Linked DNA regions of Homo sapiens: region 2 is linked to region 1. The links come from fine-mapping of genetic effects on gene expression. A gene starts in region 1. The other region holds a variant in brackets. All regions are shown on one strand. Distances are between the middles of the regions.

Evidence for each region. PIP is the estimated chance that this variant, and not a neighbour inherited with it, causes the effect. A credible set is the group of variants that fine-mapping cannot tell apart.
Region 2: its variant is the best candidate, but not a certain one, in a credible set for the expression of ACP6 in uterus (GTEx, PIP 0.87).

The regions. Positions count from the first base shown.
Region 1 is chr1:147,668,120-147,673,495 of GRCh38, forward strand. ACP6 (acid phosphatase 6, lysophosphatidic) reads right to left here and starts at 2,405. Exons shown (of 10, transcript NM_016361.5): 1 at 1,711-2,405. The coding sequence starts at 1,929. RefSeq lists enhancers at 1,253-2,196, 1,408-1,467, 2,108-2,357, 2,798-2,867.
Region 2 is chr1:147,644,091-147,649,466 of GRCh38, forward strand. ACP6 (acid phosphatase 6, lysophosphatidic) reads right to left here. Exons shown (of 10, transcript NM_016361.5): 9 at 4,156-4,321; 10 at 1-3,476. The coding sequence ends at 3,333. Among named protein-coding and RNA genes, the nearest start is that of ACP6, 24 kb to the right of the region's middle. The variant A/G (reference allele first, on the strand shown) is at 2,608.

The sequences.
Region 1 (5,376 bases):
CCCCTGATTTTCATGCACACAACTTTATACTAGAGAGCCGAAGACGTTTAAAGCATCTGTCTAAAGTCTGGAGAATATGAGCAGAAAGGAGAGGTAATATGCCTTCTCTAATTGCAAAGTCAGGCCATGGATTCAGATGCTATTTTGTGGCTACACAGATTGAAGATGAATGAAGCTGGTATCCTAAGCTACAACGGACCTTTCAACCATAAAGGCAGAAGATATCCATCACACACCCACTCTCCCTTAGGGATAAAGCCCTAAAAGAATCTAAATCTTTTCCTAGTGCCTTCAGGATATATATATATATATATATGGTACATACTAGGTCTAGGCCTACACATTCAAAGTTTTACTCTCCATTACCACTGATAATTTTTTGTCTTCTACGTGAATATAATATATATTCCTACATGTGATTCCCCAGTCCTTCTGTACCAAGAATAAATAGAGAAGAATTGGGGGAAGGGGAGCATCAGAGATGGGCTGTATACAAAATCATAAGGAAAATTTAGTGATCTAATATAAAAAGGCAAAGTAAGAGACTGAAAAAAAAATCAAAGAATCAAAATGAAAGAAGAAATCCCGGTTCCAGAGAGCAAGTGGTAAAGCCAGAGTAAGGCTAACTAGAAACCTGGTAATAGAATTAAGTGCCTTCCAAATGTATTTATTTATGTGGAAAATGCTTTAGAAGTTTAATTTCATGTGCGGCCAACCTTGAAAAATGGGTTTCCAGTTGTACAATGTAAAGACACAATCCTGAAGGTTTCTAGAAAGCAACTGTTATTATGAAGAGTATACCTAACATCAATTTTGGACAATCTTTTCGACCTCCTCCAACATCAACCTGGAAGACCAACGATACAAAAGCACTCCACAGGTGTAATACCTGGGAGTTTGGGGATTTCAGGTTGCCTGTTCCTCTTCACTAGGCCTTTCTGCTATAAAAAGTCACATCCAGGAAAGATAATCATTTTTTTTTAAACTATTTGTGCTTTAGTCATAATTATCCTGACAAAACCAGACAGATTTTTAAAACATTACTGCCACAGACTAGCCCATTTTAAATTTGTTCCGACCTCAGATCCCTCCCACTATAGGTTTAGTAACCTTAAATAGAAAAGGAGAACCCTAGAATACAACACTTGTTACAAAAAAAAACTTCAGGAGATCTCAAATGGCCTCCAGCAAACCCTGAGAAAAAGCAGTTATAAAGTTTGTTTCCAAAGGCAACGACCTCTTATCCACTGTAATCTCAGTTAAGAGTGGTTCCTATCACTAAAGTCCCTTCAGCCCTTCAGCTCTGACAAACCACCTTCAAAATGGTCACACAGAAGTGCACTGCACCCTTGTATTCAAGTTCACCTAGACCCTTAATAGAAATGCTGACCTGGGGCACTACTCCACACCTGCTGAATCAGAATCTGCAACGTAGCAGGATCCCCAGGCGACTCCCATGCGTCTTAAGCAGCGCTTACTGATGGCTGCGCCATCAGGGCAAAACTGGAAGTTCCGGGGCTGTCCTAACCCCAGCAGGTCCTTTGCTCAAGAGCCTGGGGAGTCACTGGCTACTGCTGTTTTCCCTTCTTCTGGACCCAACCCGAGCCCCGCTCCGCGCGAGTAAAGCTCTGAAGATGTGTGTCAGGGCGAGACTCCTGGCCTGGCACACGGTCCTCGCCCCACCAGCCCCAGCCCGGGCCGACCTCTCACCTGCTCCTCCAGCGGGAGCGGCTTGAGAGGACTCCGAGCCCCGTGTCGAAACACGACCTGCACCATTTTCAACTTCAGCAGGCTGCGGTCGACCGGACACTGGCCATCGGCCTCCTGCAGCTCGGCCAGGGCCACCCGCCGCTGGTGCAGGCAGTACGCCAGCGAGGTCAGGACGCCCACTGGGGTCCACAAGCGCATGCTGAACACACCAGTGATCATGGTGGTAGGCCCTCGCTGCCCTCCGGGTTGAGGCTGCAGGAGGCAAACACAAGTCTTCTGCGGGCGCCGGGGCTCAGCGGGCGCCCCCAAGTCCGCGGGAACCTGCGGATGCGTACATCCAGCCCTTCAGCAAGCAGGGACCGCTGTGCCTCCCGGCCCTGAGGGAGACCCCGAGTGGGAACGGGGGAGAGAACAAGAGGTGGCAGCAGCGAAGAGTCCCTGGGAGTTTTAACCCGGGTCGGGGTTGGTCGCTCCTGCTGCACACCGGGCCGGGGGAGATCGGATCCTTATCTTTTGCCCGACGAGGAACATTAAACTTGTATTTCAAGTTTGGCCTCCAGCACTCTTGAAGGAACAGGAGCCGGCCCTGAGTTCCCTGGCGGCAGCGGCTCCACCAGCAAGGACTACTCGATTCCACTTTTCTATAAGCAAGCTCCTACCCACCTCCTCACCTACTCAGGGACCCGTCCCAAGTGGACCCGCGCACAGGAGCACGGGAAAACGAGTCCTGTGGTGACACCTCGCCTGGAGACTCAGAGCTGCGGAAACTACAACTCCCACAAGGCTGCGCGTACCGCGGCTCCCAAGAAGTGGCTTGTACCCGCCCCCCTCGCCTGCGGGCCTCGCCCCTCCGGCCCAGCCAGCCGTTTTCCAGGCGTGGATGGCCCACGGACGTGCCTGGTCCGGCAGTGGAGTGGTAGTGAATCTGTCGGGCCATGGAGTTTGCCAGGCAGGAGGATCGCGAGCGCAGGAGTAGAACTGGGTGGTGGAGGGGAGTAGTTTGAGTCTAGTTTTGAATGTAGAAGACTTCCTTCCAGTCCTGGAAGCCTGGTTGCTGCAGCGAGGAGCTGAGACACCTGCCGAGTGATTGCCATTTGCGAAACACAGCACTAGGTGCTTTATATTTAGTCATTTACTACTCCCTTCTCTGTTTTTAAAAAAATTCTCAAGCTTAAGTCATTGTAATCATGTAGAACTTTCAGGTCACTGATGTGTTTACTTCCATCCAGAATACTTCTTGTGGAAAAAGCCAGGCCTTGCCTGTGGGTGTCCCAGTGATTAAGAACCTAAGAGGCGCCATGGCTCACGCCTGTAATCCCAGCACTTTGGGAGGCCGAGGCGGGTAGATCATGAGGTCAGGAGATCGAGACCATCCTGGCTAACACGGTGAAACCACGTCTCTACTAAAAATACAAAAAAAAAAAAAAAAAAAAATTAGCCAGGCGTGGTGGCGGGCACCTGTAGTCCCAGCTACTCAGGAGGCTGAGGCAGGAGAATGGCGTGAACCCGGGAGGCGGAGCTTGCAGTGAGCCGAGATCGCGCCACACGACTCCAGCTTGGGCAACAGCGCAAGACTCCGTCTACAAAAAAAAAACAAAAAAAAACCTAAGAACACAGAACAATGCCAGCCTTACCACCTGCTAGTCTGGTTTCTGTTGATATACAGGTATCCCAAGCCTGTGTTTCCAGATCTTTGCAACAGGACACAATCTGGGACCCACTATGTGTCTATCTCCAAAGATCAAACTGGGCCAGATGTAAAGACAACATACTTACAGAGCATGGCTCCTGGCCTGAGAACAAATTCTGTTCACCAAGCTGGAAGGTTCTGAGTGCTCCCCTCCCTGATGCAGGGAGGAGGGTCATTTTGGAACACTACATATTGTCACAATTTTCTCCCTAGCCCAGCCAAGGGACTCACTTTTCAGAGTCTTATTGTGTGTGCTGATGTGATTAAAAATCGAATACTGTTTGCTATGGACTCAGTTGTGTCCCCCGCCAAATTCGTACCCACTAAGTGACTGCATTTGGACATAGGACTTTTAGAAGGTGATTCTGTCAGAGGCATTTGAACCATAGTGACTCCATCTTGAATAGCGGCTGGGTAAAATGAGGCTGAGACCTACTGGGCTGCATTCCCAGGAGGTTAGGCATTCTCAGTCACAGGATGAGGGGGGAGGTCAGCAGGACTGGTATCACAAGAAACCAGTCAAAAAGACCCTGCTGATAAAACAGGAAGTGGTAAAGAAGCTGGCCAACACCAACCAAATGCAAGATGTTGATGGAAGTGACCTATGGTCAAACTCACTGCTCATTTTACGTTAATTATAATGCATTAGCATGCTAAAAGACACTCCCATCAGCACTATGACAATTTACGAATGTCGGGGCCAGCAGTTACCCTATATGGCCTAAAGTGGGGAGGAACCCTCAGTTCCAGGAAATCCCACTCCTTTCCCAGAAAATTCATGAATAATCCACCCCTTGTTTGGCATATAATTAAGAAATAACCATAAGTATTTTCAGTTGAGCAGCCCATGCCCCTGCTCTGTCTATGGAGTAGCCATTCTTTTGTTTCTCTTTTTCTCTAATAAACTTGCTTTCACTTTATGGACTCGCCCCAAATTCTTTCTTGCCCGAGGTCCAAGAACTCTCTCTTGGAGTCTGGATCAGGACCCCTTTCCAGTAGCAATTTTGGTTAAGTGAAGATATAAATGTGAGGTCCTAATCCAGTAGGATTGATGGCTTTATAAGAAGAGAAAGAAGGATCTCTCTCTCCACACAGGAGATCTGATGGTTTTATAAGTTTTTGGAAATTCCTCCTTCTTTCTCCTCTCTGGTCTGCCAACTTGTGAAAAAGGTGCCTGCTTCCCCTTCTGCCATGATTATAAGTTTCCTGAGGCCTCCCCCTGTCCTCAGCCATGCAGAACTGTGAGTAAATTTACTCCTTTGTTTATAAATTGTAGTATCTTTATAGCAGTGTGAAAACGGACTAATACAGCAATGGTCCTGTCAGGGCTCATGTGTCCTGTTGGAGGGGGAGTGTGGGGAAGTGTGGGGAACAACTTAGCAGCAGATCTCCAAAAGAAACCAGAGTGAGGGTGGAAAATAGCTGATTTCATGTGGTTGTTAAAAGCACTGTTTGTCAACACATGTGAGACAAACCATGGGGAGTCCAGATGTATTTTGTGTGTGATAGTAGTGGCAGTGAGCTGCAATTTAAAAGAGGCTGGGCCGGGCGCGGTGGCTCACGCCTGTAATCCCAGCACTTTGGGAGGCTAAAGCAGGCAGATCACCTGAGGTCAGGAGTTTGAAACCATCCTGGGCAACATGGTGAAACGCTGTCTCTACCAAAAATACAAAAATTAGCCGGGTGTGGTGGCACACATCTGTAATCCCAGCTACTCGAGAGGCTGAGGCAGGAGAATCGCTTGAACCTGGGGGCAGAGGTTGTAGTGAGCCGAGATTGCACCACTGCCCTCCAGCCTGGGCGGCAAAGTGAGATTCCATCTCAAAAAAAAAAAAAAAAAAAAAAAGAGAGAGAGAGAGAGAGAGAGAAAGAGAGAGACTGGAAGTCCTGACCCAGGGTAGGACCGTGTGGGTGGGGGTGTTAGGGTGGTTGCAGGAAGCAGGGGAACACTGAGTAGCTGTTATTTTGACCCTGGT
Region 2 (5,376 bases), 24 kb before region 1:
AAATTTAGAGAAGACAAAAGCACTCAAACCACAGCGACTGTACACCTGAAAACTACTAAAGAGTATATCTGAAACATTTTCACCACAAGAAAGTGATGAGTAGATGAAGTGATGAATATGTTAATTAGCTTGATTTAATCATTCCCTCATGCATACATATATCAAAACATCACATTGTACTCCATAAATATACGCAATTATTATCTGTCAACTAAAAAGAAAGTAAAAAGTTTTTATTACAAAAAAGAAGAAGAATGGTAAGATGGCGAGTATGGCTGGGGTGCAGTGAGATGTCATAGGACCGTGAGGGCATTATGACTGGCCCTTAGTTTGAGATGAGAAACCAATGGGGAATTTAGAGCAGAAGAGTGGCACGATCTTACTTTGTTTTAAAAGCAACACTGTGTTGAGAATAGATGGGCAGAGAAGGGAAGGGCAGAAACAGGAAGACTAGTTACGAGGCCTTTACAATAATCCAGGTAAAAGATGACACTGGGACTAAGACAGTAGCAATGGAAGTATTGGGACATGGTCAATTCTGGATATAGTTTGAAGAGAGATACAACAGGAGTTACTGATGTAGTAGAGGTAGGATATGAGAAAAAGAGGGGAGTCAAGGGCAGTTCTAAAGTTCTTGGCCAAAGCAACAGGGTGAATGGTGGTGTCATTTACCTAGATGGGAAAGCCTGTGGAAGGAGTAAGTTTGAAAAGGCACGGAAATTGAGAGTTTATTGTGGACAATGGGAAGTTTGATACCTATTGTATATCTTAAACATCCAAATAGAGACATTGATTAGACTGTTGGAAATGAGACTGGGATTCACAGGGAAAGGTCTAGGTTGAAGGTATAAATTTAGGAGACATTGTGTAAATATTTAAAACTGGAAATTCTTTTTTTTTTTTTGAGATGTTATTTCTCTCTTGTTGCCCAGGCTGGAGTGCAATGGCACGATCTTGGCTCAGCACAACCTCTGCCTCCTAGGTTGAAGTGATTCTCCTGCCTCAGCCTCCCAAGTAGCTGGGATTACAGGCACATTGTACTCCATAAATAGACACATACAGCCTTCCGAGTAGCTGGGATTACATCACATTGTACTCCATAAATATAATAATTTTATAAAATTATAATAATTTTATAAAAATATAATAATTTTTGTATTTTTAGTAGAGGCAGGTTTAGTGGAGACAGGGTTTTGCCATGTTGGCCAGGCTGGTCTCGAACTCCTGGCCTCAGGTGATCTGCCTGCCTTGGCCTCCCAAAGTGCTGGGATTACAGGCGTGAGCCACCGCGCCCGGCCTCAAACTGGAAATTCTTGAGATCACCTAGTGGGTGAGTGTAGGGGAAAAGGTGGAAAAAAGGTCCAAGGAGTAAGCCCTGGGACACCCCAACACTTACGGATTAGAAAAAGGTAGATTCAGCAGGAACAAAGTCGAGAAATTGGAGGAAAACCAAGAAAGCATTTGTCGAAGCCAGTGAAGGAAATAGTCTAGGAATACTGATGAGAAGCTTAGTAAGAAGAATGAAAACTGGCTATTGGATTCACCACACAAAGGCTATTGATGATTTTGACAAGAGCAGTTTCCATGGAGTGGTGGGGGTGAATACTTAATTGTAGCTGGTTCATGAGAGAACTGGAAGGGAAGAATTAGAGGTAGCAACTCTTTTGAGGAGTTCTGCTATGAAGGGGAGAAGGAAAAGAGAACAGCAGTTCAAAGATGCAGAGAAAAAAGTTTAAGAGATTTTACAGCATATTTGTATTGCTAATAGAATAATTGGTCAGGAAAAAAATTGACAATCCAGAAAAAAGACACTAGGAGTCAATGTAAAGCTAGAGGGTTGGGCTTTGATAGGAATAGTGTTGGTTCATTCTTAGTAAGAGGGAGGAAGGAAGGCTATAAAAGCACCAATGCAACTGGGTTAGCAGATTTGGTGGTTGGGTGTTGGGGGATGTGGAAGTTTTCTTCTGATCTCTTTTAGATTCTTAGTAAAATAGGAAATACAGTAACCAGCAGACTGAGGATGGGAAGGGGATGCTGAAGATTGAGGATAAAGATATGTGAATAGATTAAAGAAATAAACAGGTAGTATTGATAAAACTTAACTGATTAGACATAGGAAAATGTGAGACAAAGAAAACAAAGACAGATTTCTGATTTGGCAACTGGGTGGAGAGTGGAGGTGTCTTTCATTCAGATAGGGAAGTGTGTGGGAGAAGCAGGTCTGGGAGGAGGGGGGTTTGATTCTAACATGGAAAGTTTTGTGCCAGTGAAATCCAAGTGGATAAAAGTGTCTGAAGCTCAGAAGAGAAACCTGAGCTTGAGATATCTCAGCTCCCTGATCTGGAAGTTGTCAATATTAAGATAGTAGGAAGTGGAGAGGCTTTTGTGGTTGCTGTTTTCTCTGAGAGGTAAAGGGACTGGTGGTTTGAAATCAGAGAAGGGTTGAAATAGATTCTGGAGAAGAACAGCAACATTGACAAGGAGATAGGGGGATCATCAGGTACTCTTAGGGGGCACAGTTAAAGGTGGAGCTCTTATGTTGAGTAGTTCCAGCCTTACCATTGCAGAGCCCTGGGGCCCACATTTGTTTCTGGAACTAAAACCACC[A/G]GGGGCCCAGTGTCCTTCCTGCTTCTTCCTGCTGAGCCTCCACATCAGGGTTCCATCTCACCACCCAGCAACGTTCCCTGACCTTGAAGCCTATCCTTTATCTAAACGCAACACGCTTTCATCCTTGCTTTCCTGGTTAACTCCTACCCACCTTTCTCTACTCAGATCAGGCCAGGACTTTTTCAGAAGCCTTCCTTGACTGTTCCCCACATCCCCTGCCATGTGAGCAGGAAGTTTCTTCTCTATACCCAAATAGCCCCTCAAATACCTATTACAGCATAAAACATACAGCACTGTATCACTGATTTACTCGGCTGCCTCTCCCACTGGACTGCAACAACTTGAGGGCAGAGTGTTTTCACCTTTATAATGATCACTACTTAGTAGGTAGCTCAATACATGTGAAATTAATATAGGAGAAAAGAACTAAAGTCCAAAACCGACACAATTCTACAGGGTCATGATGTCCCCAGCCCGTGTCACACAAAGATGCTTCTAACCTTAGAAACCAACTCACAAAATAGAGAAATATCCTTTTGGTCTCAATATTATACCCCTTTTCCGTTCAGGAAGAAATCTTAGTAAACCCACAGAAAGGAAATATCCTTACATTATATTAAAGTACATTACCCCTTGCTCTCTCCTCTTCCCAAACACACAAAGCAGGAGGCATTGTATAAAGGCACTTTATTTTAAAATCAACACATCCTGCTTTTATAAATCAGTTACTCTTCATTTCCAACTTCCATCACCTGAGTTTGAGAGCAGAGTGCGTGGTATTTTTCTGGGCTTAAGGTATAAACTGACATGGCATTCAAGAACATGTCCAGCGGGCAGAGCCCATCAGGGCAACCTCTCGGCACCTGCTCCTGCAGAAGAAACATAACTCAGCAGGTCCGCCGAGGAACCTGTCCTTCTGCTATTTCCAGCTAAGCCCAGAGATCTGAGAGGCTCTGATCCATGTGGTATACATGTGCATACATATTACAGACAGGAAGGCCCCACTACCCGGTGAGCTTCCAGAATAAAAGCACTATGCTCTGCTTGTAAAAGTCACTCAAAAAGTGTTGAATTGACTGGGAAGAAAGAGTCGAGTTACATCCCCGAGCTGGGAGAACCAACAGGCTCATCCCTGGGGCGTGCTCTGGCCTCTGCCCTGGACCCCAGCCCTGATGAAGCAGCCAACACCACGGGTGCTAACAGCAGCACACATCACCTCCCAAAGATACCACCAACAATCTCCAAAACAGGTCTCACAGCCAGGAGGCGACATCCTGACAGGGACGCTCAGGAGAAGAGGAGGGGGACCCTGTTCCTAGGAGTCTGTAACAGAACTGGGATAAGGCTCAAGCCCCATCCTGCCACCATCTGTCAAGTTCTGCCTGACCCCTGGGCCATAGCCAGGAGTTGCCCTATAGGATTCAGAGAGCTGACTGTGCCAAGAGAGACTCCACTGGGCCTGAGGAGGGAGACTTGGTGCTAACTCAGGTAGGTGGGTTTTGCAGGAGGGTGCCTCACCACCACCCAACCCCACCTCAGGGGTATTACCTTCCCGTGGTAATAGAGCTGCACAAACCACTCCTTAGATTCCAGGTGCTGGTAAAGTTCCATGGTCAGGTCAACAGCAAACGGTGGCCATTTGTGGTCAAAAATCCCCAGGGTCATTAAGAGCGGTATGAAGGTCACATCATGAGCCGCATAGAGATACAGCTTTCTGCAAGAGGAAACAGCTCTCCACAATTCTCTGCCTCAGGACTCTGAAGGTCAGGATGTGGCCTGCCTCCTTTACGTAAGACACACTTGCCTCAGAAACTAGGTGACATCTAGAAATCAGCTGAGCCTGGTATAAAAGTCCTTTGCAGTAGATCGTGGGAAGAACCCTTGTTCCCACTCCCCGTGTCTTCATGAGGAGGGTCCCCGCCAGAGAAATTCTCCTGGCCTCCTCCTTGCCACCTACTCACTCCTCCCTGGTGAGTTTCAAAGAAGAAACTGAGCGTGTGTGGCTTAGACCCTACCTCTCTTCTCTCTTTGGGTCCTGCCAGCCTACATGAATGCCCTTCCTACTCTCAGCCATGGGATGAGTTTAGTAGGGCTCCTTGTTGGGGAAGCTTGAAGTTTTGGGGTATTAAGTTTATTTCAAAATAATATTCACAAGCCCATTTGGCCCTCAGCACATTCTCCAAATGGCTTTAATCTGTAATAAGAATGCCATTTTAATCTACATCTGCCTGACACCAGTATCCATCTCTTAGGAAAGACCAAGGATTTTATTTATGGACCCCCATCCTAGAAGACTAGCATTGGATCCTGTGGTGTTCTAAAGATCCAAGGCAGAAGGTGGCAAGGTGGCAAAAGCCAGAAAAAATGTACTGTCATTGCAGGTACTGTGAAGGACAGGAAATGGTATTCACAAGATTTGCTATTACAAATCTTGGCCCAAAGTTCCTGTTTCAACTCACTGTCTCCTATTCCTCTTACGCCATCATGAGTTTCTAGCTGTGATACCACAACAGTGCTTCTCCAAAATTCAGGTGACTATCAATCACCTGGGGATCTTGTTAAACTGCAGATGCTGATTTAGTAGATCAGGCTGGAGCCTGAGAACCTGATGAGTTCTTGGGCAACGGTGAAGCTGTTTTCCTGCAGAACGCACTTAGCAAGTGCCTAGGACACATAATATTCCACAGCCGTAGTCCCAACCTTGGATTCAAGGCTCCAAAAGTGGCAATGGAGGCTCATGAGCTACTTCCAACATTTTTTTTTTTTGAG